4 linked regions of the Homo sapiens genome follow. The protein of the gene in region 2 purifies or fractionates together with the protein of the main gene of each other region. This does not show direct contact. Each region holds a gene or a part of one and is shown on either strand. Other genes may lie near its edges.

Evidence for each region.
Region 1: the proteins of COPS8 (region 2) and CUL2 purify together in Homo sapiens (affinity purification with mass spectrometry; 5 studies listed by BioGRID and IntAct, with this or other methods). This does not show direct contact.
Region 3: the proteins of COPS8 (region 2) and DCAF1 purify together in Homo sapiens (affinity purification with mass spectrometry; 5 studies listed by BioGRID and IntAct, with this or other methods). This does not show direct contact.
Region 4: the proteins of COPS8 (region 2) and CUL4A purify together in Homo sapiens (affinity purification with mass spectrometry; 11 studies listed by BioGRID and IntAct, with this or other methods). This does not show direct contact.

Annotation. Positions count from the first base shown.
Region 1 is NC_000010.11:35,031,156-35,039,026, forward strand, and holds part of CUL2 (cullin-2), read right to left. Parts: coding exon 7,765-7,871; intron 4,142-7,764; coding exon 4,017-4,141; intron 2,119-4,016; coding exon 2,011-2,118; intron 1,340-2,010; coding exon 1,280-1,339; intron 465-1,279; coding exon 336-464; intron 232-335; coding exon 145-231; intron 1-144.
Region 2 is NC_000002.12:237,088,247-237,096,117, reverse strand, and holds part of COPS8 (COP9 signalosome complex subunit 8), read right to left. Parts: intron 7,514-7,871; coding exon 7,465-7,513; intron 6,257-7,464; coding exon 6,124-6,256; intron 2,029-6,123; coding exon 1,921-2,028; intron 297-1,920; coding exon 234-296; intron 1-233. UniProt on the Homo sapiens protein: Component of the COP9 signalosome complex (CSN), a complex involved in various cellular and developmental processes.
Region 3 is NC_000003.12:51,412,503-51,420,373, forward strand, and holds part of DCAF1 (DDB1- and CUL4-associated factor 1), read right to left. Parts: coding exon 7,232-7,871; intron 6,375-7,231; coding exon 6,176-6,374; intron 5,697-6,175; coding exon 5,614-5,696; intron 4,370-5,613; coding exon 4,285-4,369; intron 2,356-4,284; coding exon 2,122-2,355; intron 1,542-2,121; coding exon 1,448-1,541; intron 885-1,447; coding exon 780-884; intron 565-779; coding exon 491-564; intron 1-490. UniProt on the Homo sapiens protein: Acts both as a substrate recognition component of E3 ubiquitin-protein ligase complexes and as an atypical serine/threonine-protein kinase, playing key roles in various processes such as cell cycle, telomerase regulation and histone modification.
Region 4 is NC_000013.11:113,261,375-113,268,241, reverse strand, and holds the end of CUL4A (cullin-4A), read right to left. Parts: intron 5,323-6,867; exon of another isoform or gene 5,243-5,322; intron 4,756-5,242; coding exon 4,660-4,755; 3' UTR 1,134-4,659; downstream 1-1,133. UniProt on the Homo sapiens protein: Core component of multiple cullin-RING-based E3 ubiquitin-protein ligase complexes which mediate the ubiquitination of target proteins. As a scaffold protein may contribute to catalysis through positioning of the substrate and the ubiquitin-conjugating enzyme.

The sequences.
Region 1 (7,871 bases), on a different chromosome or scaffold from region 2:
TTGTATATCCCACTGTGTGACTACACAAATACACATTTAACCAGATGAATTGTTTCCTGTTACTGTACACAATGCTGCAATGAACATCTTTATGTGCTTGTGAATGAATTTCTAGGACAATACCACATTAAAGACTTACATTACCTTTAATTTGTTGATCATGGCTTCTTCAGAGTCCATAGACATGGATAACCCATGAATTAAACGTTTTGCCAGCATTCTTGCGTAGAACTACATTTAAAAATATTTTAAAAGATTACTTCCTTTCTAATGATTTAGCATTCAGAAATAAAGTTGACCAAAATACAAATGAAACTTTTCTGTTCACAACATACCTTTTGAAAGACGTCCTTGTCATCAATGTATTTGAACACTGTGATGAAGCTCGTGAGCCTGTCTTCCACTTCATTCTCTGTCATCCCTTTCGCTGACTTCTTCAGTAAGTTGTCACAGTACTTAGCAAGCTCATGTAGAAATTGATAATAAATCTTACAAAGGGTGCTTCTGTATATATCACGCCTCAAAGGAGGCAAAGTGGTGATACAAGGTAAGATCAGCGGACAGAATTTTTGCTGTTTTTTTTAGAGACCGGGTCTTGCTCTGTTGCCAGGCTGGATTGCAGTGGACAAGATCATAGCTCACTGCAGCCTCAAACTCCTAGGCTCAAAGGATCCTCCTGCCTCAGCCTCCCAAGTAGTTGGGACTACAGGCATGCACAACCACACCAGGCTTCTAAAGCTTTATGTAATAATCATAAATGTAAACTAAATAAAATATACATCATAAGGTAAATTTTTAAAAAGAACAAGTCAAATATCAAATCATCACTTATTGACCAATAAAGCAACTGATATAAGTAATACAAATTTTTAAAAGAACACCTAGGTGAGTTTCGAGTGGTTTTATAATTTTTGACATTGAACAAGTACTTTAAAAAAAAGTTACAAAAATCTTGTAAGCAAGTTTCCTTCAAAGGTTACCCAAACTTTATCATCAGATTTCCTTTAGATTTCAGATGTAACAGAATCTACATGAAAAGTATTGCAAATTATTTCAAAGTAGATATACATTAAAACCCAAACTTTGTAAAATGGTTATTCTTTAAGACACATAGTATATTGCATTCCTTACATAAATGCCAAACTATATACAATGTAGATAATTTTCCTTCTATTTTTCTGAAAAATGCTACAAAAACCAAATTAATTTGATATTCTGAGTTCTCATTTTCTAATACTGACTTTTCATAAGATTACTTTTCAGCAACCACCAAACTTACCAGTTCAGGTGCTTTGCAAACAGACTTAGGTTCTCTGTAATTTACAACTGACGTAAGGGCCTGAATAAAAAAACACGCCATAATTAACCACCAGCCATAGGGAAAAAGTACAGCTAGTTCAATATAAGCCATAATCTGTACATCCAAAAATTACCCCGCCACATAAAACACAGCATTGCCGGTAGTTTGTTAATATTTTCATGCCTAACATGGTAGACTCCTCTGACTTTATTCTCTAATTACAAAATATCTATATATCCTGTTGCTATTCCAAGATATTCTGTAACTCATTATCGAAATTTGAACAGATAAAATAACGTTACTTAAAAAAAAACTTACAATCTTGTAAGCAGCTTTCCTTTAACGTATGCAAAAGTTCATGTAAAACATATCTATTCTCTTTTCAAATATTATTCAATATAGCCTAAGTATTATGGCCAAAGAAAAAAAATCAGTACTAAAAATTGCAAAATTATGCATGTCTATCCAGAACATATCAGATTAAAAATTCCCCTTATATAGCATAATCACGGGACATTCTACAAGCATTCAATTTAACTATTCAGTTAATAATTTAAAAATTATATTATTTCTATTTTGAATTTCATATCAAAATTACTTAATCTCCATGTCTACATCAGAAACCTCATACTAGAATTCTGATCTTGAAACTGCCTAAAGAATGATAGAGTTTTATGTACATATATAGTATATATGTATTTAAAACTTACCTTATCCAACGCACTCATAAAATGCTGATCACCATTCAAAACAGTGTTGATAAGCTGAACAAATTTACCATGCACTTCCAAAACTGACTCCACAAATAGTGTTGGCATCTAAAAATGAAATATAAGTACAAAACCACATTTTAAGAGGTTCAAGGATATCCAAACTATGAGGTTTATTAGACTTATTAGTAAATTTTTCCTCAAGGAAATTATGTTTCACACATGCACACTTCTCAGAAAATGGTTTTAGCTAAGACGGTCTTAGAAATTTACAACTTTGGTGTTGAAGGCTGGGCACAGTGGCTCACACCTGTAATCCCAGCACTTCTGGGAGGCTGAGGCGGGCGGATCATGAGGTCAGGAGATCGAGACCATCCTGGCCAACACGGTGAAACCCCGTCTCTACTAAAAATACAAAAAAATTAGCCAGACGTGGTGGCGTCCACCTGTAATCCCAGCTACACGGGAGGCTGAGGCAGGGGAACTGCTGGAACCAGGGAGGTGGAGGTTGCAGTGAGCAGAGATCGCACCACTGCACTCCAGCTTGGGCGACAGAGTGAGACTCCGTCTCAGAAAAACAACAACAACAACAAAAAAAAAAAAAAAGGAAGAAAGAAAATAGCTTGTCATTCAACACAACAAGCTGTCATAGACTGTCTAGTACCTGTCAGAAGAACCCACCAAAAGCATACTTTTCTACTGTGTTGGAATAACTTATCTTAAGGATAACAAGACCTGAACTACCAGGTCTATCACTTTCATAGAGGCTTAAATAAGCAAAGACTGCCTGCAAAGTCACTAAAGGCTGAGAGAAAGGAGAGTTAAAAAGCCAATAATCCTGAGAACAGAGACCCCTTGAACTCGGCAAGACAATCCCTCACATCTCAGAGAGAAGAAATACCTAATAGTACAAAAGTGAGTTTTCCCTCTTAATGGAGATAACCATGAAGAAGTTACTACCTAAGACTTAACTAAGTCAGTTGGATTTGAGTCTACCACAAATGTATTCACTTATGTTTCCATCTCCCAGCCTTGACACAAAATTCGATGCTTCTATGCCCAATGTCATTGGACATGGAATCTATAAACGTAATAATGTAAACTAGTAAGTTTGACAAATAATAGAGTAATAAACCTGAATACTATAAACTAATAGTTCTACAAAAAATAGAAAACTGTGGTAAAGGGAATTTGAAGAAATAAAAAAATAGAAAACTTACACATTATTGTGGCATAACATAAAAACTAAAAATTATTACTTGCCAAAAACCAATCTGCAGCTAAGGTAACAGCCTCTAAAAAGTGCTCCTGAACAGTGACGTCTATACACAGATACTATCTTATAGATGAAGGGCAAACAGCTCTACTTAAGAAGAGACAGTAACATTTGAAGTTATTTCTCTCTTGCTCATCAAACATTACCAGTAATAACAAGATTTGGTGATGGGAAAGACAAACTGTTACAGTACAAACTGTTACAGTCATGTGATTGGCAAAGTATTCGAGAAAGATGAGTATTAGGGATATGAGGGTTATTGTTTTGGGTATTTGGGGCAGCAAGCATATACTTACAGAAGATTATTTTAATCTAAATTTGCTTCCTGGACAACCAAATTCAGAGGATATGGAAAGGAGGCAAATTGCAAGTCGTCTATATTACCACTGATTAATACTACTACCATGACAACAAACTACGTTATCAATGCCAATTACACAAAAACACAGTTATTTAAAAATGGCGAGCTTATTTTCCTGTGGAAAGTTAACAACTGTTCAATGGACACCCTCCGTATGGCTAAGCAGCAGCCTATCAATAGCTTTCTAATAATCTGATAATTCCAAAATGAGTCCAACAAATTCTAGGTTTAAAACATTTGAATAAAGACATTTCTTTCGTTGGCATGGTAAGACTTTTTCTTTCATCTTTCAAAACAATAAAGTCAAAGGAAAGGCTCCACGCTGGATCTGATTAGGAGGAAAACATTGCAGTTTCCCACACAACTCACGTTTTCCTGAGTAAGGTTGCTGGTTGCTCGAAGGCCCTCATCATGGATGTGGTTTTGCAGCTCCTGAATCATATGAGGTAAACCAGTGGACACAGCACGGAGTAAGACGTACATATTTGCCATGTCTGAGAGGAAAAAGACATCTGAGGGTTAACTCCCAAATATTTTCATTTATTAGGTAATATATGGATCCAAGTGCAGGAGTACAATATACGGATCCAAGTGCAGAGCACCCAGAGAAAAGTCCCCCATGCCCACCTCCCAGCCACCCAAGCCCCTCTCCCCACAGGAAAGGGATGTGGTTATTTAACATCTTCCCAAAGATATTTTGTGCAAATTCAAGTGAATACATATATTCTTCCCTTTGCCCCTTTTAATACAGTGTACTGTATTTTGTATATTATTTGTAGCTTCAGAACACATTTTAACTTAGTGGTCTTTTCCTATCAGTACACAAAGCATTTCTATGTATTTTACAGCTGCACAGTACTCCATTATGTGGATATAATTTCTTAACAACTGATGGAAATTTAGGTGGTTTCCAGTCTCTTGATATTGCAATGTTGCAATCAATAATCTTATACATGAGCAAGAATATATGCAATATAAGTTCCCAAAAGTGAGGTTACTGTGTCAAAGTTTAATCTTGTAGACAGATCCTTCTAACCACAGCTGCCAACAGCAGAGAGTTCCTTTGCCAACAATGTGTTGCCAAATGTTTTGATCTCTAACACTGGGAGGTGAATAATGATCTCTCAGTGTAGTAGGTTTAATTTTAAACGTTTCATTAAAGCATCATACATATACAGAAAAGTATACAAACCATAAGTGTATATCTTACTGAATTATCACAAGTGAACACACAACACACCCATGTAATCACACGCAGGATAAGAAACAGGCATTACCTACACCCAGGAGTCCCCTTCATGCCTCCTTCCAATCACACACTCTTGCTCCTCTGCAAAGGTAACCACTGCTGTGACTTCTAAATCACAGATGAGTTTGAACTACGTATAAAAATGGGATCACACAATTCTTTCGTGTCTGGCTTCTTGTGTTCAACATGTGTATAAGGATCATCTATGTTGTTGTGCATGGCTTTAATTTGTTCATTTCCACTCCTCTATAATATTCCATTGTATGAATATACTGTACTATTCTACAGTAACTGGACATTTGAGCTGTTCCAGTTTATGGAGCTATTACAAACACTACTATGAACATTCCTGTATGTCTTTTTGTATATATGTCCAGGCATTGGCAGTGGGGAGGTAAAGCTGGGGGGTGGTTATATGTTTAGGAGAACTGCTGGATCATAAAATATGCATAATATATCCCACTTAGCGGTCAGTGCCAGTTTCCCAAAGTAGTTGCATCAATTTATACTCTCACTTCAGTGTTCAACAAGTTCCTGCTACTTCACACTTCTTTCTATGTTTATTGGCCATCTGGGTATCTTCTATTCTGCAGTGCCTGTTTTTTGAGCATTTTATATTTTGGATATAAATCTTTAGTATTGCAGGTACATTACCCTATAACTGTCTTCTGATGATCCAGTGGTTTTAATGGCTTTTTTTGAGACAGGGTCTTACTCTGTCACCCAGGCTGGAGTGCAGTGGCAGGATCTCGGCTCACTGCAACCACCACCTCCCAGATTCAAGTGATCCTCCCACCTCAGCCTCCCAAGTAGATGGGACCACAGGTGCACACCACCCCGCCTGGCTAATGCTTGTATTTTTTTGCAGAGATGGGATACTGTCATGTTGCCCAGGCTGGTCTTGTACTCCTGAGCTCAAGCAATCTTCCTCCCTCTTAATGGCCTTTTAATAATCCAAAGTTTTTCATTTTAATGTAGTTCACTGGATCAATCGTTCCTTTGTGGTTAGGGCTTTTTGTGTCCTATTTAAAATATCTTTCCCTGTCTCAAGGTTATGAAGATATTCTTCTATATTATCTTCTAGAAGTGTTATTTTTTTACCTTGTACATTTAGAGAAAAAACTCAATAGTGAATTGATTTTGTATATGGTATCTTGAGGTAGTGATCAAATTTCATTTTCTTCTGAAATGGATATCCAATTGACTGAGCAATGCGTGTTGAAAAGACCATCTTTTACCTGCCGCTCTGCAGCGCCACCTTGGTCTTACATCAAGTGGCCACATATGCTTGGGTTGTTTCTAGGATCTCTTATTTTATTAGGATATCTGTCTGTCCTTGTACCAATGCCTCACTGTCTTAATTACTATAGGTTTTACAATAAGTCTTGCTGGTCATTAAAGTCTTTCCATCATACTCTTCAAGACAGTGACTTTCGGAATTAAAATGAAATTATTGGGTTTTGACTACATTGCCCTGGATCTATGAAATTAATGTTGCTGTAAAAAACACGGGGCCAAGGGTGGTGGCTCGTGTCTATAATCCCAGCACTTTGGGAGGCCAAGGCAGGTGGATCACGAGCTCAGGAGTTCGAGACCAGCCGGCCAACATAGTGAAACCTCGTCTCTACTAAAAATACAAAAATTAGCCAGGTGTGGGGGCGGATGCCTGTAGTCCCAGCTACTCAGGAGGCTGAGGCAGGAGAATCGCTTGAACCCAGGAGGCAGAGGTTATAGTGAACAGAGATCGCGCCACTGCATTATAGCCTGGGCCACAGAGCGGGACTCCGTCTCAAAAAACAAAAACAAAAAGCCTGATTAATGGCCGGGCGCGGTGACTCACACCTGTAATCCCAGCACTTCGGGAGGCCGGGGCAAGCAGATTATCTGAGGTCAGGAGCTCAAGACCAGGAGGCCAACATGGTGACACCCCGTCTCTACTAAAAATACAAAAATTAGCTGGATGTGATGGCACACACCTGCAATCCCAGCTACTTGGGAGGCTGAGGCAGAATTGCTTGAACCTGGGAGGCAGGGGTTGCAATGAGCCAAGATCATGCCATTGCACTCCAGCCTGGGCGACGGAGCGAGACTCCATCTCAAAAAAATTAATTAATTAAATAAAATATACATATTTATTATCTTTCCTGCCTATAAAAGTAATGCATGTTTTTTGTTTTTTTAAAAATCAGAGAGGCCGGGCGCAGTGGCTCACGCCTGTAATCCCAGCACTTTGGGAGGCTGAGGCGGGCGGACCACAAGGTCAGGAGTCCGAGACCAGCCTGACCAACATGGTGAAACCCTGTCTCTACTAAAAGTACAAAAAAATTAGCCAGGTGTGGTGATGAGCGCCTGTAATCCCAGCTACTCAGGAGTCTGAGGCAGGAGAATCACTTGAATCTGGGAGGCGGAGGTTGCAGCGAGCCAAGAGCACGCCGCTGCACTCCAGCCTGGGCGACAGAGTGAGACTCTGTCTCAAAAAAAAAAAAAAAAAAAAAAAAATCAGATATAGCTGATTTTTTATATTATATAAATTATTACATTTATTACATAATATTTGTATTTCCTTTTTATAGTCTTTGCCTTTATTCCTACTGTTTATCAGGAATTCTAAATGCATTAAGGAAATTAGCTCTTGTAATATATAAAAATGTATAAACACAATTTCCCACTTTTTCTTCTGATTTTAGAACACTCTGAAAACACTTTCCTAAAATAGTCTTTCAAAATAAAGTATTAATAATCTGTAAAAGGTTATTTAAAATATTTTAAAGACTATTACTAAAATAGGCATTAAATCAAGGGTGACTAGAGGATGATATAAAAGGTGGATTTATAATTTAATTTCTACTCATGTTTGGTGTCACTTACCATTTTTTTTCTCTTGTCGAATTATATTATGACATTCTGCATGTAAAAACTGTAAGTGGTCTGCTACCATTCGTTGTTGACATTCATGAATCACCTTAGTATATGAA
Region 2 (7,871 bases):
TAAGGACCATGAAAAACCTACGTAAAATCATTTATATACAGGAAATACATTTTTAAGAGTTTAAACTAGGTGATCCTTTCTACCCCGTCTACTACGCTTTATTTAAAATGAGTTATTTCCATTGTGTTAGTATAGCCGAATTTTACATCCAATTATCAAAAACCAAAGACTGAAAACCTGAAGCAGTCTTAGAAGAGTCCAGTGCTGCGTAAATGGGTGAAAGCTCCACCTACCTGGCTTTCTGGGCAGAACCATTCTTGTGGTGGAATCAGCTTGCCATCCTTGTTCTAATATGCCTAAAAAAGTATATTACACATAAAGATCCGGAAAGAATAAAACACCCCACAAAATCCACAACTTGTCCATGACATTAGTTGTACAGAAGACCTGATGTGTTTAGTATAACCCGTCATATGCATTTTTACTAGAAAGGTATATTACAAAGAGCATGGAAACTTATTATTGAAATATTTCTGAAACAGGTATCAAAGCCTCATTTTACTCTATTAGGTTGCTATAATCATTAAAAGATGGTTAGTTTTCTGTCAAGAATATATTATAGTATTAACCTAATCAGTATTATTTAAAACAAACAGAAGGAAAACTGATATGGCGCCTTTTGTGACCATCATATCAGTAATAACAAAGATGGCAATAATAAAAACAGCTTCCATATATGGAAGGTTTACCTGTAGGTACCAGACTACGTGCTTTTATAGGGATGATTTTATGTAATCACCACAACTCTATGAAGTGGGATATAGGGCCATCGTTTGACAGGTATGGAAAATAAAGTTGAGGGAAATTCAAGTGATTTGTCCTAAGTCACATAGCCACTAGCATCAGGGACGGGTGGTACCAGCATTCACATCCAGGTGGTCAGCTGAGAATACGAGCTCTGAAGTATGTTATATATAGAAAATAAATGATGGACCAATTTTAAGAGCCAAAAGAAATAAATGTTTGTATGAGTAAATAAAAGTAATAACTTAGAACTTTCATTAACCTATCTTCATGTATCTACAACTATGCTAGGCCCTGGAAATTTAGGATGTAGTGCGTGATGGTGCTCATATTTTAGCTGGAGAATCAAAAATGTCAATCATGGCAAAACAATGCAACAAGGTGTATACGATATATATATATATTTTTGATATGGAATCTCACTGTGTTGCCCAGGCTAGAGTGCAGTGGCACAGTCTCAGCTCACTGCAACCTCCACCTCCTGGATTCATGCGATTCTCCTGCCTCAGCCTCCTGAGTAGTTGGGATTACAGGTGCCTGCCACCACACCTGGCTAATTTTTTGTATTTTTAGTAGAGACGGGCTTTCACCATGTTGGCCAGGCTGGTCTCGAACTCCTGACCTCATCATGATCCACCCGCCTCGGCCTCCCAAAGTGCTGGGATTACAGGTGTGAGCCACTGCACCTGGCCAGGTGTATACAGTATTCTATAACAACGAGCAACAGGAAGGATTAGTCTGGGCATCAGCTGAGAAATGAAAATGCAAAGTTACATTTGGAGAGACCAGCAGGTATGAGTGGGGAGCAAGCAAGCGCCTAGGGTATGGGTCAGAAATGGCAGGGAAAATGAAAAGGGACGTGGGGATGATGCTGCCTTTATCAAATAAGGGTGAAATAAGGATTTCCAAATATGAGTAAAGAGACCAATTAAGACATATTTTTGTAACCAACTGTGTGGATACTCACACATTTGCTTGCTATAGAACTATTAATATGCTTGACTGCAGGGTGCCTGCTGGGTGTTCCACAACACCTGTTTCATATCACCTCTCAAAAAACACAGCCTGGACTCCAAAAGCATATTCTGTTCCAAGTGTTTCAGAGGAGACTGTGAACCTACAATTCACACTTCTATTTTCCATTTTCCTTATAAGTAAAAAGTAAGCCAAAATTACCTTTCACAGCCTCTTCTACAGGAAGTCCAACAAAGGCTGCAAAATCATCGGCGATGATTGAAGTATACGCTTGAGAGACCAGGGCAAAGGCGCGTCTCCTTGTTGCATCTATTGTGGGAGTGGTGGGTTGGCAGAGAGTGAACCAGGGAGCAGCATTTTCAAAGCACATTGTTAAATCACACCACTGTCCTTGTCTAGTTTTCATAAGCAAGGCCAGATGAACCCAAAGATTTCTGTGCTTATAGATACAAATACATATGCCCAGTATGTACGGGGGGTTCAAATATTGCTGGAAAAAAATACATTTCTTACACTTCCTCTTGGATGAAAAATCTCAGATAATGAAAATTACAAAGATGGAAAAAGGTTACTAAACACAAGGCTCTAACCCTAAGAAAATGCAGTATGTTTATGCAATGGGGATATAAATTTTACTTATCTTATTTCATTTACAAATGCTGGAATCAAAGGAGCAGAAAACTGATTTGCGTAATCAGCTGTCCTTTTCAAAAACGTCTCTAATACAGGACCACACCTGGGAGTTACAGAACAAATCTTGTAACTGGAGCATTCTTCCAAGTCTGCATCAAACTCTTGACTGAATTAAGGTTCAAAATCCTAAATTCCCACCTTGAAAGAATGACTCTAAGAAGGGACTGCCAAACAATACCAGCAACGAAAACTTTCCTGAAAGTGGCATTTAGGATTGTCCCCAGGCTTCCATACCCAATTAAATAAACTCAGGAGTACGGTAGAGTTGAGCACTGTGAAACCAGCTGGCCTTTCTCCCTGGGCATTGCTCATTGGTAATGCAAGAGCTCCTCCACCTGGTGGTCAACATGCTTAGGAAATATTCTGGATTTTACTTTCCATATTTAATAGGCCAGTGTACATATGTAAAACAAACACCCTAACATATTTAAAATCTTCTCTCCATTCCTGGGACATTGTCAAACTACACCAATTCCCCCAGATACCCTTTGTGCCAAACGAGTCCACTGGCTCTCAGACAAGTCTTACACCTTCTCCCCCTGGGGCTTTTGGTTTATGCTATCCCGTGGCCTGAAATGCCCTCCTGTCTGCTCTCTACCATTCCTAAGTCTGTTTATAATTCATTACGATCTCTGCCCTTCTCTAAACTCAGCAGTATTGTTTACACTTCTACTTTAACAAGCAACTTTCCACTACGGCAGACACTGTTCCACCTATCCCCTTCTTTTCAATTATATTCCAAACTTCTCGACAGGAAGGGGTATCTCTTATCCTCAAAGTCCCCCAAACACCTAGCATCTCCAGTGAAATATATGCCAAATACATGCTTGTTGATGGCATCACGAGGACCAAAATGGGGCACGACTCCAACACTTAGGCTTTGTTTTCTCAGATTCCTTAAAAACTGCCGACACTCCCATCCCTTCCCCTCATCTGAGCCCGACATCCTCTCCAGCTTTCACTCAGCCACTGTCTGCTCTTCCTTCTGTGGCTTTACACTTATTATTGTAGGTTCCTTCCTTCCTTCAACCAGCCTGTAACCTAACAGACTTTGCAATACCAAGAAACGTTTTCTATTAAGGCTGCATACATTCAATGGAAAAGAACTGAGCCAACAATGGAAAAGAGCCAACAATGGAAAGTATACTTTTTTTTTTTAGAGAAGTAAAAGTATACACCATAAAACTATATTCATTTGGTAAGTCAACTGTATTTCAAAAACATTTACTTCAGTTCAAATATTCTGGCCATATTTTCAGAGTGGGGAATAAAACAGGAATACAGTAAGAATGGAGGAGATAAAAGGGAGAGAAAAGTAAAAAGATATCACTGGAAAAGGAAAGAAAAACATGTGATGGGAGAAGTGAGTTGACAAAGCAAAAATAAAGGCTAAGTGTTCTCTGTCTCAGAAGCTGCAATATCCACTTGGCACGAATCACATCTACATTCCGACTAGTCACTCTGTGATCCTCAAGTTGTGAAATCTGTAACCTCAGGCCCTAGAATGACACGCTGGAAGGTGGAATAAATTGAGCCAGCACCTAATATCTGTGGCAGTAGTTGATGGAACACATTTTTGGTGAAAACAAATGCTAACAGAATGCAAACTCAGTTGTTCAACAAATACTCAAGTGCTGCTCATCCATCACTGCCAGTGCTGGAGACAGAAGGGAAGATGAACTAGTCACTCCCATCCTTTCGAATCCTCTTCTGTCTTTCCCAGCCATGCTGTGTGCCAGGGAGGTTGGCCGCCAATGCCTGTTGCACCTGAGCTCTCTTGCTTTGGCGAATTGGGGCTCTATCAGGTCAGAGGCTGGGAAGGAAGGTCAGGGAATTCACTTCCTATGCCCTTTCCCTGCCTTGCTCCAGCTGACCTTCTGTATCCATCCTGTGGGGCAGCCCCAGTAACACTGGCCCCTCGCCTTGCCCTTTCAAGCCTCAGATGAGAATGGCTACTGTCTACCTAGTTTCTAAGTACTTCCTCAGCCCTTGTTTCCTGCAAAAATAGTTTTCACTAGCTTCTCTTAAGTCATTTTCAGTTTTCTAATAGGACTGTGCCTAATTTAGAAGAGAATGGAAAGAGATCTAAGAAAGTGATTGTTCTCAACTAGAAAATAAGTTTCTAATAAGTTAAGAAGCAAAATGTTAAATTCATCAGTAAGACCAATCTGTTAAGAGACTATCCTGACCTGGCTGCATTTTACAAAGGAAACCACAGTACCATTCATGAATCTGGAGATTTGTAAAAGTCTCAGGATATGTTCAGGAATACTGTAGTGCTTTAGAATAAGGTACATGTTTATATATTAACTCATTTACAACCTGAAAAAGTACTATTTCTAATCACATTTCACAAATGAGGAAAATAAGACACTGAGGAGTCACCCTAGTAAGTGACAGAATCAGAATTTGAACTCCGGAAGCAAGGACCCAGAGCTTAAACTCCCGCATGGTACGCTATATAGCCTTTCCTGGGTCTACTGAACTGCTTGCCAGGAATTCTCAATCTCATGGAATTCAGTGAGAGGCGGCTCCGGGAAGGAATAAAACTACGGACCCGACGGTGCACAAGAGAATGCTTGCTGAACGAGTAAGGAGTTCCCAAGCCCAGTCCTGCCAATCAACCCGCTGTAAAACACTGGGAAAAGGCACATGGCCTGTGACCGCCCCACCACAATCACAAGGCTGAATCACGAGGATACTATGGAAGTCCACTATAACGCTAATTCCTCAGGGCTTATATGAAGAGGTTTCTGGTGCTACTTTCTGAAACTGCCCCTGCTGTACCTGTGCAATCTTCTTCCACACTCCTCCCTTCCCATCTATCTGCCTGCCTTAGGACTCTGCTCATTTCATTCACATTTAAAGTAGCTGCCTCCTGTTCTGTCACTTACATTGTTATGTTTTATGCTGCTAAGAATTTTACCATTCCAAGGGAATTATGTGCATTTCAGAAACAATCTCTGCTGTCTGCTGCCCTGTAAAGCTGATATCCCTTAGCAGAGTGATGAACAGTTATTAAAAAAATTCCTGCTCACTGACTTCCTCCACAGCAGGAAGGCATACAGTGAAGGTGGATATTAACTATGGAAGTAAGGGTAACAATAAGAAATAACAGTACATGACAACATAAAACAAGATTATATAATTTTATAAAGAGTGAACCAGGAGGACTGGAAGCAAATGCTAGGGGTGAGAGACTGTAGAGAGGCAGGGAATGAGATTTTATTGTGGGATCAGTGCTCTGTCACACCAGGCTTGTAATCTTTCAAAGCAATTAAAAACACATTTGAGCATCTATGTATTAAACTGATAAATTATAAAATCCAGAAGCTTAAGACAACACCTATCAAAGGCTGAGGCTGACAAAATTCAAAGAGCAGTCTCTATTTTCACATCTCTACAAACCCATACCTTAAACTTATTAGAATATTACAAGATCTCGTTTTAATAGCAAAAAAAACTCTTAAAACTGACGAGCAATTTCTGTCTAGAATTAAGAAACAACAAAAGCACAGCAGCCAATGTAATCTCAAGCAACAAAAAATGAAGAAGCATGATTAGGGCAAATCTAAAAAATTCTGAAAACTGCTCTTTTCACCTATCAAAAATATCTACTTAAACACACACCACTGATTTATTACTTCAACACTGCAGCACTTAGGGACTAAGTCTCATCTAATTTCATTTTTAACCACAAAGAAACACTACCTCTAAGTGCTTCCATAATTGGCTGGACCGTCTCAGACCACTGGTGAGCGTTGATGGTTGTATAGATCCCAGGGAAATCTCTCTGCCAGATTCTTTGTCCTACTGACCAAATTCCCCCAAGTTCAGAATTTGCCTGCAATAAATATTATTGCCTTAGAGGGTATTCACTCTGTAAATGCACCAATGATTGTATCTTAAAACAAAATACCAGAAATGATATAAAAACTTGTTAGCTACATCATTAAAACCTAATTCAACATTTATTTTAAAAGATGCAATTACTTTTTCAGCCCAATCACTATCAAAAGGTTTTTAAACACTATGAGCAGTAAGGTAAAATTTATCTGTAGGGCTGATATAAATTTATTACAATAGCAAATTAAGGCATGAGAAAGTAGTCAAAAAACATTTCAGAATTAAGCCTGGGGACTAATTAGCTTAAGGATTGTTTTTAAAGATGTTGTATTTGTATTTCATAGATATATTATGAATATATATTTAGGTCAAAAGTAATAGCAAAATGGTTAACAATAGAGACTCTCAATCTAAGATGTCATACATTGTAGCCTCTCTAAGGATTGAGTTTCCACTAACGCCATTGAAACTTATGTGCATGATTTATAGTACTTCTTTATTTAGCCAAAGAAGCTGAGGAATATTCCAATCTTACTTAACAGAACAGAATGTATGAGGGAAAAAAAAAGAGTAAAAATACTAATCCGATCTCTTGATGAATATCAATAAACAAAAGTTTAGATGAATTCTTGGTAATATCCCGAGAATGTTAAAAATTTCACTTGACACTCATGTTAGACACATGGAATCATTTGACATTAAAATTTTACTTCATTCCACTTTGGAAGAACCTTTTCACAGGCTATTTCTTCTAATCTCCCAACCAAAATAAGAAATTTAAAATCCTAATTAACAAAAATAATCTTATTGCTGTCAATCATTCTTAGAGTATTCTTGTAAACGATGGCAGTTTCAAAATAAGTACCATTATAGGAAGCAACATAAACCAGCTGAAAATCACCTCAGCTGCCTCCGCCACCTCCAGGAGCTTCCTTCATCTAAACTGGCTCAGCTGTTTAACTAGGGAAGCTGCACATAAAAGCGTCTCAAGAAATCTAATCAGTAGGAACTGAGCAGAAATTCTACACCATCCCAGCAAAATTCAAATTTCTGATTAGAGGACTCTGAAGATTTATTTCGAATCCTTAATACCAATCTGATGACTATTACTAGGACGTCAGATAGAAAACATAAGCTTATAAAAGGTTGCCATTTAAGGGAATGTCATTACATTAAAGCAGTAAAATAGGTTTAAAGGATACTTACAGATTTTATAGCAGGTGGTATTCTTTTCCAAAGATATCTTGCATTATTCCTAATTTACGCCACCACAAAGAAGAATAATCAATTAAAAACATAATCATCTCAGGAAATGTTAAAAACTACCAGGTCCCAAGCCAAACATACAGAAGTATACTTCACATAACACAAAGTAAAATTTAGTTTTATATGAATTTGTTTTGGGGAAACAATAGTGGTTTTCCAGATAAAAAGGACATGAAATATTTTTACCAAAGTAATATTTTGCCATTTCTAGTGAATTTTTTAAAAATAATAATCCATATCCTAAATTTAGGCAACAGCACACTAAAAACACGAGGATTTATAGACGGCCCAAATTATTTATTAGGATATAAAAGTAAACAAATTTATGTACTATCAAGGCTGTAGCA
Region 3 (7,871 bases), on a different chromosome or scaffold from region 2:
TAAGGAGCAGTTACTTTTCAGAAGGTCCACATCCACGCCTCAGCCCTGACTGGTGCCCATGACCTTGACCCTGTAATTATTAAAGCTTCTGATACCCGAAATTCTTGAGCTGACTATGAAAATGTTATACCTAGGACACATAAAGGGGAAGAAAAACAGAATGAAAAGACTTGGTGAGGAACCATCACCCTTGGAACAAACCAGTCTTGCTCTGGTGAGAGATCCAGATTCCTCTGAGAAAGGGATGACAGTGTGAGTCCAGAAAAAAAGGAGACAGGATCCTCTAAGCTGTCTTATATTGGGATTTTCTTACTATTTCTCTTTGTACTGTACATCTCCCAAGCCCCATCAAATGAATAGGTTATCAATAATCTACCTTCAGGAATGTATTGACTTTACATCTTATATCAGACAAAATGTCTGTAGTACAACTTGAAAATTATCCTAAACATCAGAACAAAAGAGCAGGGCCTCTGCAAGCTCCCTTTACCTCAATGACAGCAAGATAGCAGTCTTTGGTGTCTGTACACAGGTCAAAGATGTTCCGTTTCACATCAATGGTTGCTGGAAAATAGAATGTGAGAAGATTGGGATTGGACTATTGCTGTGACCCTAAAACCTGCTTTTCCTCTAAAGGAATTCAGGATGATTGCTCAAAAGTATTTCCATAACTTCTCTGTTTTTCAATAAAAAATTACAGGCCTCCAGAAAATGAAGGATCTTAAATAAGGAACACCAAAACACGACAAAATGTTCAATGTCTGTCCCTTTCTGCTTACCTATAGGTTTGTAGTCAGTTGCATTAAATGTTCGGAAGGATGACCCAAAGGGGCTTTTCATCCTCTCTTCCATTAAGTCATCTTCATCATCTGCCTGCAACATAGCTTGAGGGGGAGTGGGGGAGGAAACACTATTAGGAATCACAAACATCCCCTCTTCACAAGTGCAGAAAATGTTAATGGCCAATCAAAACAATCTACTTGCATATAGGTTTACATACAAATTCCCTTGTACAGAAATCTACTCTGCATCTAGTTAGCTCCTCTCAGAGCATCTTCCTTGCATATCCCACCTATTGTGACAAATAATATCCTCAGCCTCTCATCTACCTCCAAGAAGTGTTACTGTACTTACAAGGCTTATAACAACACAAGAGGACAAATGCAAAAGCTCTTAAGTTCATAATGATACACTGGAAAATACTGCATGAAATTTCTTTCCATACAAGATTTCCTTGTTATCTTCAAAGTAAGCTGCCTTTCACCCTAAACCAACATTATTTTCATATCTTTTGTCACCATTCATACTATCAATTTTTTATCTTTTATGTTACAACTCTCAAATGCTTTCCAATTCACAAGTGAGAGATGGTTCCAAAAAGAAGTATCAAATTAAGTGAAGGGGTAGAGCAAAAGGAAAGAGAATAATGAAGGATAAGGTTTATTACCTCCATACATCACTGTTCCCGTGTGATTGAACACCACGCGACACTGATCCAGAGCGGGAACAGTATGCAAAAGATGAAAAGTTCGAAGGTCCCACTAGGAGGGGAATGGTCAAGGAAAACTATTTTACACAAAACTTATCTAATCTCATGGGAGGAAATTCTAAAATATCACTTTTTTTCCTCCTGCCAGGTATTGATACTTTAAAAGTCAATGAGATCAAGGTAAAACAAATACATGTAGAATGCATATTATTGAATGATGTCTCTGAAAATATCCTAGGGTATCCTCATATACAGGAATGCTTTATGAGCTCTTTTCCTCCCAACAGTAGTACTTCATTTTCCTCTTATGTGGCAACTGATTTTTTACAGAGCAAAAGTAAAATCCTTCTGAAGACAGATAAAAGCTAATTCAATTCTTGGAGAACTGGGAGGTAGGAAACTGGTCACTCTTACCAAATACATAGAAAACATGCTAGTGAAAGTTGTCAGTAATTACTAACATTGGCAACAGTGCTTTGGAGATTTCACTAACATTTCAAACCAAAGGACAGGCACCATATTATTACCAGTGTGGACACTTTAACCAGGTATTGGTATAAAGATAGAACAAATTATTTCTGCACCACAAACCAGACAACAAATGGAAGGTAAGACATGAGTATAAAGGATACAATCTCAGTATTAATGATCACCTCCAGTCCATTTGGATGGAAAACACCACTGATGTTCATATTGAACTTGTCAAACTTGTGGATGGCCTGTGCAGAGCGGACATCCCAGAGGACGCCATCATTTAAGACAAGATCATCTGTAGGATTAAAGGTGGCACAGTTCCTCTTGTAGTTGTTGGCAAGATCTGGGTTAAACAGAGTCAACAGCTTGTTGCCAGTCTGAATATCATAAATCTTTAGAGAAGAAGGGATGGGAAGAGAAAAATCAGACCAATCCATCCACTGACAAATTAAAGAGAAAATGTGCAAAGCAGTTTCTAAAATTAACACACAAATTCTCCACATGGATCAATGATTACCACAGAATACTGCCTCCCAAAGTGCTGGGATTACAGGCGTGAGCCACCGCACCCGGCCAGGCACCTCTTTTTCTCGGGGTTCCATTCTGCCTTACTGGCCATTATATTTGATTTCCTTCCCAAGTTCCTCATTTGGCAACTCCTAAACACATGCCAGGGTTCTATACCCACAACTCTTCTCTAGTCCCCTTGATGATCTCATATAAGTTCATGGCTGTAAATACTATCAGCTGGGGACAGTGACTCATGCCTGCAATGCCAACATTTTGGGACACCAAGAAAAGTGGATCACTTGAGCCCAGGAGTTCGAGACCAGCCTGGGCAACGTTGGGGAAATGCCGTCTCTACAAAAATACAAAAAAATTAGCCAGGTGTGATGGTGCTCGCCTGTAGTCCCAGCTACTCAGGAGGCTGAGGTAAGAGGATTGCTTGAGTCCAGGCAGTCAAGGCTGTGGTGAGCTGTGATCGTGCCACTGCACTGCAGCCTGGGTGACAGAACAAGACCCTGTCTCAAAAATAAATAAATAAATAAATACTGTCAATATGTGGACAAGTCCCATATTTATATTTCCCAACCCACACCTCTCTCTTGAACTCCCAATTTTTTGTTGTTTTTATTTTCAGAGACAGGGTCTCACTTGGTTACTCAGGCTGGAGTACAGTGACATAATCATAGCTCACAGCAGCCTCCAACTCATGGGCTCAAGCAACCCTCCCGTCTCAGCTTCCTGAGTAGCTGGGACTATAGGTCCCAAGCCCACCAAGCTCAGCCAATTTTGTTTATTTTTTGTAGAGATGGGGGGAGTCTCTCTATGTTGCCCAGGCTGGTCTCGAACTCCTGGCCTCCCACCTCAGCCTCCCAAAGTGCTGGGATTACAGGCAGAAGCCACTAAGTCTGGCCAGCTCCCAACTTTTGTATTCAATCCCCATTCTCTACTTGAATGTCTAAGAGAATCTCAAATTTCATGTGTCCAAAATCCCAGGGCCAAGGTCCTCCATTTCTCATAGCCTCTACCATGCCTACCCAGGCCCAAACCCACAGCTCCTCTCATGTGTCAGGTGGTACAACACCCTCTGACCTGGAAGGCTGCTCTTGCTTCTCTCACAAAAACCAGAGTCACACTTCAGGAACTTTACATCCACTCATGTATCCTCTACTCACCCACCAGTGTCTTCATCTCACTCAAAAAAAAAGCTAAAGGCCCTAACTACCACCTACAAGATGCTACCAGATACAGGCCCCTCACTGACCTCAGCTCTCCTCCCACCTCCCAAGCAAGGGCTTTTCCCTTGCCATTTCCTGTGCCTTACGCTGTTCCTCCAGGTATCTTCCTGAATCTCGCGTTTCCTTCAAGGCTCTGCTTAAACATTACCCCATCAGTGATGCTGTCTACCCTAGATAAAAGAGAAGTCCCCCACACCACCACCAAGCATTTCCTACCTCTTACCCTGCTTTCATTTTCTCTGAAACACTTACCACCTAAATTTACCGTATATTTGCTTCTTTATTGTCTCCCCAATGAGGGTCCATAAAGGCAGGGGTTTCATTTCTAATCTAAAACTTACTAAGAATTCAAAAATATCTGTGGTGCTAATGACATCTTTCTCAATGTCACATTTAGCCCTTATACATTTTTCCCATACAGCTCAGAACTATATTATCATACTTTTAGATTCTAACTAGAAGGAATATCACTGATTTCTAGTTGCCCAAAGGACTTAGGTCCTCACATTCTATCAAGAAGATTTCAGTATGAACAAATGGGTATGATCAGCTTGAAAACAGTGGTTCTTAAGTACTTACGTGGGCAATGTCTCCTTTTGTGCCGATGACCCGATCCTGGGAGTGCTTACTGAACTCAACATAGTGATCTTCTGTGAAGGAATGCCTATGGACAAACAACAGGAGCACTGAAGTGACAGATCTTCAGGACATATTCCTGCAACCAACTGAAACACAGGTGACCCCCAGCCTCTTGCACAATCACACTCACCTAAAGATCCTGGACTCCCAAAGAGGAAACAATCATACACTTAGATTACAAAGAAAATTCCTTCTATCACCTTAACCAAGCAGATACAAAATAATGAATGGGAATTCCTTAGAGAAATGACAAACAGGGCACATGTGCCTTTGAAACACGCAGCAAAGGGGCCAGGCATGGTAGCTCACTCCTACAATCCCAGCACTTTGAGAGGCTGAGGCAGGTGGATTGTCTAAGCTCAGGAGTTCGAGACCACCCTGGGCAACATGTCGAAACCCTATCTCTATCAAAAATGCAAAAAATTAGCCAGGCGTGGTGGCATATGCCTGTGGTCCCAGCTACTCAGCAGGCTGAGATGAGAGGATCACTTGAGCCTGGGAGGTGGAGGTTGCAGTAGGTCATGTTTGTGCCACCGCACTCCAACCTAAGTGACAGAATGAGACCCCGTCTAAAGAAGGAAAGAAAAGAAAAGGCCAGGTGCGGTGGCTCAGGCCTGTAATCCCAGCACTTTGGGAGGCCAAGGCCAGCGGATCACAAGGTCAGGAGATCAACACCATCCTGGCTAACACAGTGAAACGCTGTCTCTACTAAAAATATAAAATATTAGCCAGGTGTGGTGGCGGGCGCCTCTAGTCCCAGCTGCTCGGGAGGCTAAGGCAGGAGAACGGTGTGAACCCGGGAGGCGGAGCTTGCAGTAGGCTGAGATCGCGCCACTGCACTCCAGCCTGGGCGACAGAACGAGACTCTGTCTCACAAAAAATAAAAAAAAGAAAAAAAAAAGGAAAGGAAAGGAAAGGAGAGGAGAAGAGAGGAGAGAGAAAAGGAGGGGAGGTGAGGGGGGAGGGGAGGGGAGAGGAGAGGAGAGGAGACACAGCAAAGACTGCAATGTCCTATGTGAACATGGGAAAATACATAGATTCTGGGTCGGGGTCTGCTGCATAATGAGAATGTATATACCTCATAAAAGTATCTAGGAATTAAGAAAGATAAAGTCTTATTAAACATGAGTCTTAGATGAGGAAGAGAGAAGTTAACAATAACCGACAGCATCCTCTTTCCCCAAAAGGCTTCCAGTCTAAGAACCAAATGAAGGGGGGTATAAACTAGGTAAATAAAGCACAGACTAGGTTCCAAAAGCAGATACATACTTCATATCAAATACTGACTTCATTCCCCAAAGTGCAGACAAAGGCTGGCTCCAAGTAGCAGATGTCAGCAGCAAGGACCCATCCTAAAAGAAAAAGGCGCAAGGTGGGTAACCACGTATTTACATACATGCAGATGTCACTACCTGCCATTAGCATTTTTAAAGATTTGCATAAAAATGTTGTTGAATTAAAGAGACAATTTTATAATCCCCAGAAACCAAGAAATGGTCAGAAGCCACTAGGATTTGAATACATACACCTATAGTGTCCTATAAAATAACCAAACTTAAGAGAATATTAAATCCTACTGAACTAGCCACAAAAATAGAATAGATAAAAGGGAGGGGGGAAAATGAGAAGATGTCAAAGATGGTTCCTTTCTTCCTACTAACTTTGCCATATTCCTCAGTCTCCATCTGAAATATGAATTAACCTCAACTAGACTTTCCAGTTGAGGACTCATTTAAAAGAGAGAGCTCAATAAAGGGTAAGCCTCCTTTACTCTAGTTCACCAATTCATCTTGGAAGAATGACTGAGAGCATCCTAGGAAGGAACCCTTACCCTGGAAGGTTCAAGATGTGTGATGGCTGAGTTGTGACAGTTATAGCTGGCCTCCTCCTGTCCACTAAACACATTATAGAGCTTCAGCTGCCCTGTGCAGGTGCCAAGCATCAGGAACCGCTCCCGTGCTGAGAATGCACAGCAGGTGAAGCCACTCTCATCTTCATTGGCTTCCCGGAACACTGAAATAGGACGGAATCTAAGCAAAAAAAAGAGAGAATCACAGGCAAAGAATGTGCAGGGACTCAGAAAAAGCAAACTGCTAGGATAGAAGAAAAAGCACAGAACATTAATGTTTCAAATGGCTTCTTCCAAAATCACAGTGACCTTCAGTGCTTTTTATTTTAAATAAGAAAAAGATTTCCACTTACAAATTTAAATAACAAAAATTCCCATGTTTAGGCCAGACACAGTGGCTCATGCCTATAATCCTAGCACTTTGGGAGGCCGAAGGGGGGGTATCAATTGAGGTCAGGAATTCAAGACCAGCCTGGCCAACATGGTAAAACCCCATCTCTACTAAAAATGCAAAAATTAGCTAGATATGGTGGTGCCTGCCTGTAATCCCAGCTACTCAGGAGGCTGAGGCAGGAGAATCACTCGAACCTAGGAGGCAGAGGTTGCAGTGAGCCAAGATAGCACCACTGTACTCCAGCCTGGGCGATAGAGAGACTCCGTCTCCAAAAAAAAAAAAAATTCCCATGTTTAAAACCTGTGATCCCGTAACCTTTATGTAAGATTTGTCAAGAATCAGAACAGGAAGCAACTTGCACCAGCACAAGTTTGGGAGCCTCCTTATGGACAGTAGTAATGAGGGGGTGTGGGTTCTAGAAAACATACTAGTTGAGATGAGAACACAAACGATTATATCAATATACTGCCAACAATCACACAAGGAACCCATGGTTGACAAAAGGTGGTACAATTACATTGTTCAAGTATTACACAAAGTAACAATCAGTGGTATTTCAGGACAACTATGCTGATACTGCCCAGTTTGATTTAAATAAAAGAATCATTCCAATTCCCAGGGAGTAAGAAGGGGCCTCTTCTTACCTGCTAAAGATAAGGTGCCTATCAAAGCATCCGCCATCCACCCCTCCATACTTTGGAAATGATGCCCTGCGGTTTAGCCTTGACGTAAAGTTTATTGGCGCTTGCCGCCTCTGTTTTGGCTCAGGACATTGGTGAGGAGTAAAGAGGGAGAAAGGTGGGCAGGTGGCAACTGGATTCTTGCAGCGAGCATGTTGTTCTCTAAGATACTCTGTGATTATACTGTCCAGCGTAGGTGGGGAAGGAAGATGTCTGTCCAGCTGTTTTTTTATGGCTGGGCTTTGGCTGTAGGCACCATGGTCCGACTTCTGCCGCAACACTCTGATTTTCCTGCCATTGCAGGGTGATGGCCTCTCTCTGATAAAACTGATTCTACCAATCAAAGGGGAGTTGCCTGCATAAGATGGGCCGGGCAGAGCTAGCGGACCCTGGGGGGGCCGTGGCTGAGGATGAGCAGTAGGGGCAGAAGGCGCAGAGGCACCCACAGCAGCATGGCTGCCCAGACGAGTTGCAATGCCATTAGCGATACGAGGGGTTCGGGGTAGAGAGACAGGAGAAGCAGCAGCAGTGACTGGGGTAAAGGCAGAAGAATGGGAGGCAGCAGTCATGGGCAGGTCAGCCTCTTTTGTCAGCACGGTTGCTG
Region 4 (6,867 bases), on a different chromosome or scaffold from region 2:
CGAGGCCCTCCCTTCTGCCCATTGCTGCTTCCAGGCCATGCTCCTTCCATGCTGCTGGACACCCCGGCGGGGGTGCGCCCTTCTCACTGGCTGGCCCACCTCCAGGCCTCAGGGCTGTCCTGCACTCAGGGCCTCCATCACTGGCTCCTGTCACCGTCCCTGACTGCTGGACGACCATCAGGTCTTGTCTCCCATGCTCTGGCCCCAGTTCCCCGTCTGTCCTCACCCAGACCATCATTGCCAACAGCTGCGCCCTCCAAGCTTACCTCCTAAATCTTCATGTTACATGACCCCCCCACCCTCCAGCCTAGGGCCATGGTCACCGTCACAACCAATGTCTCCCCCGGCACCACACCTATGGCCAGCCCTCACCTGCCCCCACTCCCTGTGCCCTCGATCCTGCCCTCTCCTGGGATATTAGGGCCTTGCTGCAGGACAATGCCCAGTCACCTGCCACTGAAATGCAGCTCTGCTCCTGCGACCTCTTGGAGTCATTCTCAGCCGCTGTTCATCTGTTCTTGAAAGCAGGTCTGCCCTCACGGTACCCGTTTCCTCTGCTCCCACTCTCTTAAAGCTAATGAAGAACTCACTTATCCGAAGGCTTGTTGCTGGTCTTCTTGCTGACTTCTAGTTCTGTTAACATTAAACTCATCAGTACTTTGTCGTACATTTTATCCAAGATGGTTCCAGTTTTTTTTTTTTTTTGAGATGGAGTTTTGCTCTGTCATCCAGGCTGGAGAGCAGTGGCGTGATCTCAGCTCACTGTAAGCTCCGCCTCCCGGGTTCACGCCATTCTCCTGCCTCAGCCTCCCCAGCAACTGGGACTACAGACGCCTGCCGCCACGTTGGGCTTTTTTTTTTGTATTTTCAGTACAGACGGGGTTTCACTGTGTTAGCCAGGATGGTCTCGATCTCCTGACCTCGTGATCCGCCCGCCTCAGACTCCCAAAGTGCTGGGATTACAGGGATGAGCCATGGTGCCCGGCAAGGGTTCCAGTTTTTTTAACCTTGTTTTCCCCCATGTTGACTTTAAAAGATGTCATTTAATGTCAATCCTTTTTTAAAAAAATCGATGTGAATTCACTAGATCACTTAGTGGAAAAACACAAATAAAGGGGCAACGGGTCCAAAAATCTTAGAAAGGAGGACTATATTTTTCTTTTTCTGAGTTCTATTGTACAGCATGGTGAATACAGTCAAAAATTGAGTATTGTACATTTCAAAATTGCTAAGAGTAAATTTCAGATGTTCTCACTACAAAAATGTTAAGTATTTGAGGTGATGGATGTAACTAGCTTGACTAGTCCACAATGTATGCATAATTTATAAGATCACTTTATACTCTATAAATTTATACAATAATAGTCAATTTACAAAAAAAGTATCTTATGATTATGGTTTCATATATATGTATTTTTTTACACGTAAATACTTGACCACTTGGAACTTCCCTTAGTATAAAAAGGAGTCTAATCCAACTTTTCTCTTTTCAAGGTGGCCCAAACTTCTGAGCATGGGTAGTTGTTGCAAAGTTCCAGTTCCTGATCACACACGGCCCCTTTGTGCCACGCCGAGTTCCTGTGTATTTGGCTTATTTGTGGACTTTCTTGTTCCAGGAATCTTTTTAAAGGGCCAGCATCATGCTGTTTCAATTACAATGTTCTAAAAACAGCAGAATTTAAAACAATTTGACTAGTCTGGCATATTTGCTTTTCTGTTTTAACTTTAGAATCCGCTTGTGTTTTAAAGGAAGGTTTTACATCTTAAGATACTGTATAGCAAAATGTGAGAATCAACAGAACTTTCACTTATTCAGGGCCTGTGTTCCTTAGTAATGTTATAATACCTTTCACATAGGTGTTTCCCTATTTGTTACTAGGTATTTTATCTTTTTTGGGGGTTGCTATTGAAAAAATGACTTCTGGTCAGGTGCAGTGTCTCATGCCTGTAATCCCAGCATTTGGGGAGGCTGAGGTAGGAGGTTCGCTTGAGGCCAGGAGTACAAGAACAGCCTTGGCAACATAGCAAGACACTGCCTCTATAAAAAATACAATAAAAATTATCTGGGCGTGGTGATGTACACCTGTAGGCCCAGCTACTCAGGTGGCTGAGAAGAGAGGATCGCTTGAGCCCAGAAGGTAGAGGCTGCCGTGAAACATGATCATGCCACTGCACTCCAGTCCAGGTGACAGTTAAGACCCTGTCTCTAAATAAAAATAAAAAATGACCCTCCATTATAGCCTATATTTATAGGAAAGCTACTGATGTTTTTGTTAATTTTGTGTCTGGTTAACTTGGTGAATTCTTTCTTCAGTCACAGATTTTCATTTGCTCCTTAGATGACCTGGGTATGCAACCATCTAACCTGCAAGTAATTTCACCTTCTCCTTTCCACTTTTACAGCATTTCTGTCTAAGTGCTGTTTCTTTTTCAATGATTTCTTCTATACTATTTGTTTTACCACACTGACCTTTAACAATAAAACATTAAATATTGCTAAATAAGAGAATAGATATAAATAGATTTTCCTTTCTTTTATAAAACAGAAACAGGCAGGCCGGGCATGGTGGCTCACGCCTGTAATCCCAGCACTTTGGGAGGCCAAGGCGGGCAGATCACCTGAGGTTAGGAGTTCAAGACCAGTCTGGCCAACATAGTGAAACCCCGTCTCTACAAAAATACAAATATTAGCTGGGCATGATGGCGGGTGCCTGTAATCCCAGCTACTTGGGAGACTGAGGTGGGAGAACTGCTTGAACCCAGGAGGCGGAGGGTGCAGTGAGCTGAGATTGCACCACTGCACTCCAGCTTGGGCAACAGAGCAAGACTCCACCTCAATTAAAAATAAATAAACTAAAATGGAAACAGGATCTCCCTATGGTGCTCAGGATGGTCTGGAACTCAGGCTCAAACGATCCTCCCACCTTGCCCTCCCATAGCTGGGACTACAGGCGTGAGCCACTGTGCTCAAATGAAACAAAGGCACAGCACAACGAATCGTCCAAGTAAAAAAGACCCACTTGTCACTACCTGGCCCCACTGGTATTTTGTGGTAGAGGTGGCCAGGAAAGAATAATCACTTGAGAGGGGACAGGTGCTCCCTGCTCTGACTTCTGTCTAGTGCACTAGTAGTCAAAGCTGCTAAAGAGTTATGAAGAATGTGTCATTTGCATATCACAAAGTTTTATTAATGTAATTTTAAGGCCAATTAAACTAATTTTATTCAAAGTAAGTCTACATTAAATTACAATATTAACAATCTCTAGACACAACGAACTTATAAGAAAAAAAAAATAGAAATCTGTTTGGTCTTTCTTAGACCACATATCATGGAACTCATAAATGAAAATTTTCAAAGATAGAAATGACAATTAAAGAGTGAGGATTTTAATATGGAAACCCACAAGGTGTCATATTTCAAACCCGCATGTTTCAAAAAGAGACTCTTAATAATTTAGCACAAAATCAAATTATATAAACTTGGTATATTCCAGAAAATATTGCTTTAAACACTTATGCCATGATCAAAATTCCTTTGGTAGCTTTTAATCAAAATGAAACATGCTATTATGTAAAATATAAAGTACTTTTAAATGTTATCTCAAAAGTATCTTTGTCATAGTTACCCTTCTAACATCACTACTGAACTTTCCTTTCACTGTTCAACCTCATGTATATATACACAACACAAAACCAGGTACCAACAAAATCCTTTTAATCTTTCCACAAAATAACCTCTGCTTCACAACATCAAGACTTTAAGTCTCCATAAACTTTTTACAGTTTACAGCAGAGAACAAGGATCGTCCCTGCGCATGACTGTAAAAACCAAACCAAACTTTATTATTGCAATCACACAAATACTGCAATTAAAAAAAATCAAAGAGCAGTTACCCCAATGCAAAAAAACAGGGACTGCCAGACTCAATCTTAGAATGGAAACACAAACACACTAGCCCCAAACCCTAAAACAGAGATTCACAAGGAACTCAGCTGACGAACAGACGCAGCAGGGCGGACACCATGGCCTTGGCACCTCAGGGAGCTCACTTAGAAACCTGACTTACGAAAAATCAGCCATCAAAGTTTACAACTTTTGGAAATACATGAAACAGAGAGGGGCCAGTGGCTAGGGTGCGTCATCCATTCGCCAGCTTTGAACCCTGGCTCTTTCTAATGTTCACCCATGAAGGGCCCTTGTTTTCACTCTAAATGCTGATCATCTGAGCGAGCTGTCTTCAGGGATACCTAAGGAATCTTCAGAGCTAAAAAATGCAGCATCTAGGGTCTTCTTCATTGTGCACTCATGATCACACACGAGAACAAACCAAACTTGCAGCTTTTTGACACAAGAACAAGACCTTTTAAAGGAACTTCTCTTTAGTAACATCTTCTTGTCCAATCTCAAAGTTATTTTGCACAGAGTAACAGAAACAATTTAAATGCCTAAAAGAACTAGAGGAAAAACTGGAGGGAAAAAGATACATCTGCAGGTTGAAGTCTTGAGCCTTGTGAAAGATGACCCAGGAGCCACCTCCCTTCCTTCGCCTTCCAATGTCCACAGCTGGATCAATCAGAGTCCCAGAAATGGCACAGGTGTGCTTCCTGCTCTGAGGGTACATTCTAGTGTTTCATGAAGGGGAACCGTCTGCAGATGCGTCAGGCCACGTAGTGGTACTGATTCGGATTGTCTTTGTCTCTCTCCATATAGTCTCTGTCTATCAGAGATTCAATTCTCTTTTTCAAATCTCCAGGCTAAAAAAGAAGAATAAAACCCCCCTAATTACAATGGCATTAAATTTACAAACATTTACATACAAGGGGTATATGCATGAAGTATGTAACTATACTTATAGAAATATATATACAAATAGATATTTATATGAAAATCATTTATAATTATACACATATTTATGAAATGAACAAAACTTTCTATTTTAAAGACAAAGTTAACGTTATCTCTTGATAAAAAAAGCGTCCATGTGAGTTTATGGTCAGAGTGTGGTTTCCTGAGGGAAACGTGAAACTTGTGAAATGTACATACATCATCTGCCATCAGTAAGGGCACGTATAAGCGAGGCAGATCCGACATCTGCCATCAGCAAGGGCACGTATAAGTGAGGCAGACCCGACATCTGCCATCAGCAAGGGCACGTATAAGCGAGGCAGACCCGACATCTGCCATCAGCAAGGGCACGTATAAGCGAGGCAGACCCGACATCTGCCATCAGCAAGGGCACGTATAAGCGAGGCAGACCCGACATCTGCCATCAGCAAGGGCACGTATAAGCGAGGCAGATCCGACATCTGCCATCAGCAAGGGCACGTATAAGCGAGGCAGATCCGACATCTGCCATCAGCAAGGGCACGTATAAGCGAGGCAGATCCGACATCTGCCATCAGCAAGGGCACGTATAAGCGAGGCAGATCCGACATCTGCCATCAGCAAGGGCACGTATAAGTGAGGCAGACCCGATCACGTGACACATTTTTATTTGAAAGGAAAATCTCAACATGTCTTACTGGGGCAACTTTTATCCTTTGAAAGGATGCTTCTGCCTAAGTAGTGTATTTTATTTTGTTTATTTATTTTGAGATGGGGTCTCATTTTGTCGCCCAGGCTGGAGTGCAGTGGTGCGATCTCAGCTCACTGCAGCCTCCACCTCCTGGACTCAAGCAATCTTCGTGCTTCAGCCTCCCCAGTAGCTGGGATCACAGGCTGCACACCACCATGCCTGGCTAATTTTATTTTTTGTAGAGAAGGGGTCTCACTATGTTGCCCAGGCTGGTCTCAAATTCCTGGGCTCAATCAATCCGCCTGCCTCAGCTCCCAAAGTGCTGGGATCGCTGGCGTGAGGCAGTGCGCCTGGCCTGTAGTTTTATTCTCGTGTATTTACATAGTTATTGCATGCCATGTCCACGTAAGTGAAACTACAATCCCCAGTGTTCCTGCACTAAGAGTAGGTGACTGAGGAGACGAATCCACAGCCACAGCCTGTCTCTGCCCAGAGGGAACAGCCACTCCAGCTCTGCTGTATTAGGAAGAAAATCTGTGTGAGCACTTACGTGCAAGGCTCTCCCTATACAAGGGAGACCCTCTATTTTCCAAACAAACTTCACCTTCTATTCAGTGATAAGCCACACATTTTACAAGATGTGGCTGAGGCTGGGCGCGGTGGCTCACGCCTGTAATCCCAGCACTTTGGGAGGTTGAGGCAGGCGGATCACGAGGTCAGGAGTTTGAGACCAGCCTGACCACACGGTAAAACCCTGTCTCTACTAAAAATACAAAAATTAGCTGGGTGTGGTGGCGCGTGCCTGTAAGCCCAGCTACTCAGGAGGCTGAGGCAGGAGAACTGCTTGAACCCGAGAGGCAGAGGTTACAGTGAGCCGAGATCGTGCCACTGCACTCCATCCTGGGGGACAGCAAGACTCCATCTCAAAGAAAAAAAAAACCCAACTACCCGAGAGCAGAGCGGGCGCCCTGGTCTGCCACACTCTACCCCTGAGAGCAGAGTGGGCGCCCTGGTCTGCCACTCTCTACCCGAGAGCAGAGCAGGTGCCCTGGTCTGCCACACTCCACTCTTGCTCACCTCTGCTTCGCGCTGGGCCTGATTGTTTGCAGTGGCAACAGGAGACTTGCTCCAGCTGGTGGGAGGAAGGGGCAGTGAACCTGATGGTGCTTTTGGAGCTTCCCAGGGCCCTGAGGACGGCACCTCACCTCTGCAGGGAAGGGGGCAAATGTGGGCTGATGGACAGTGGCACTTCCACCAGACTCTTAAGTGTTCGACTATTTAGTGCATCTCAACTTTATTCCCTTGATGGAATGGGAGGCTCAAACTGCACAACATGGAATCTGGGGACTTT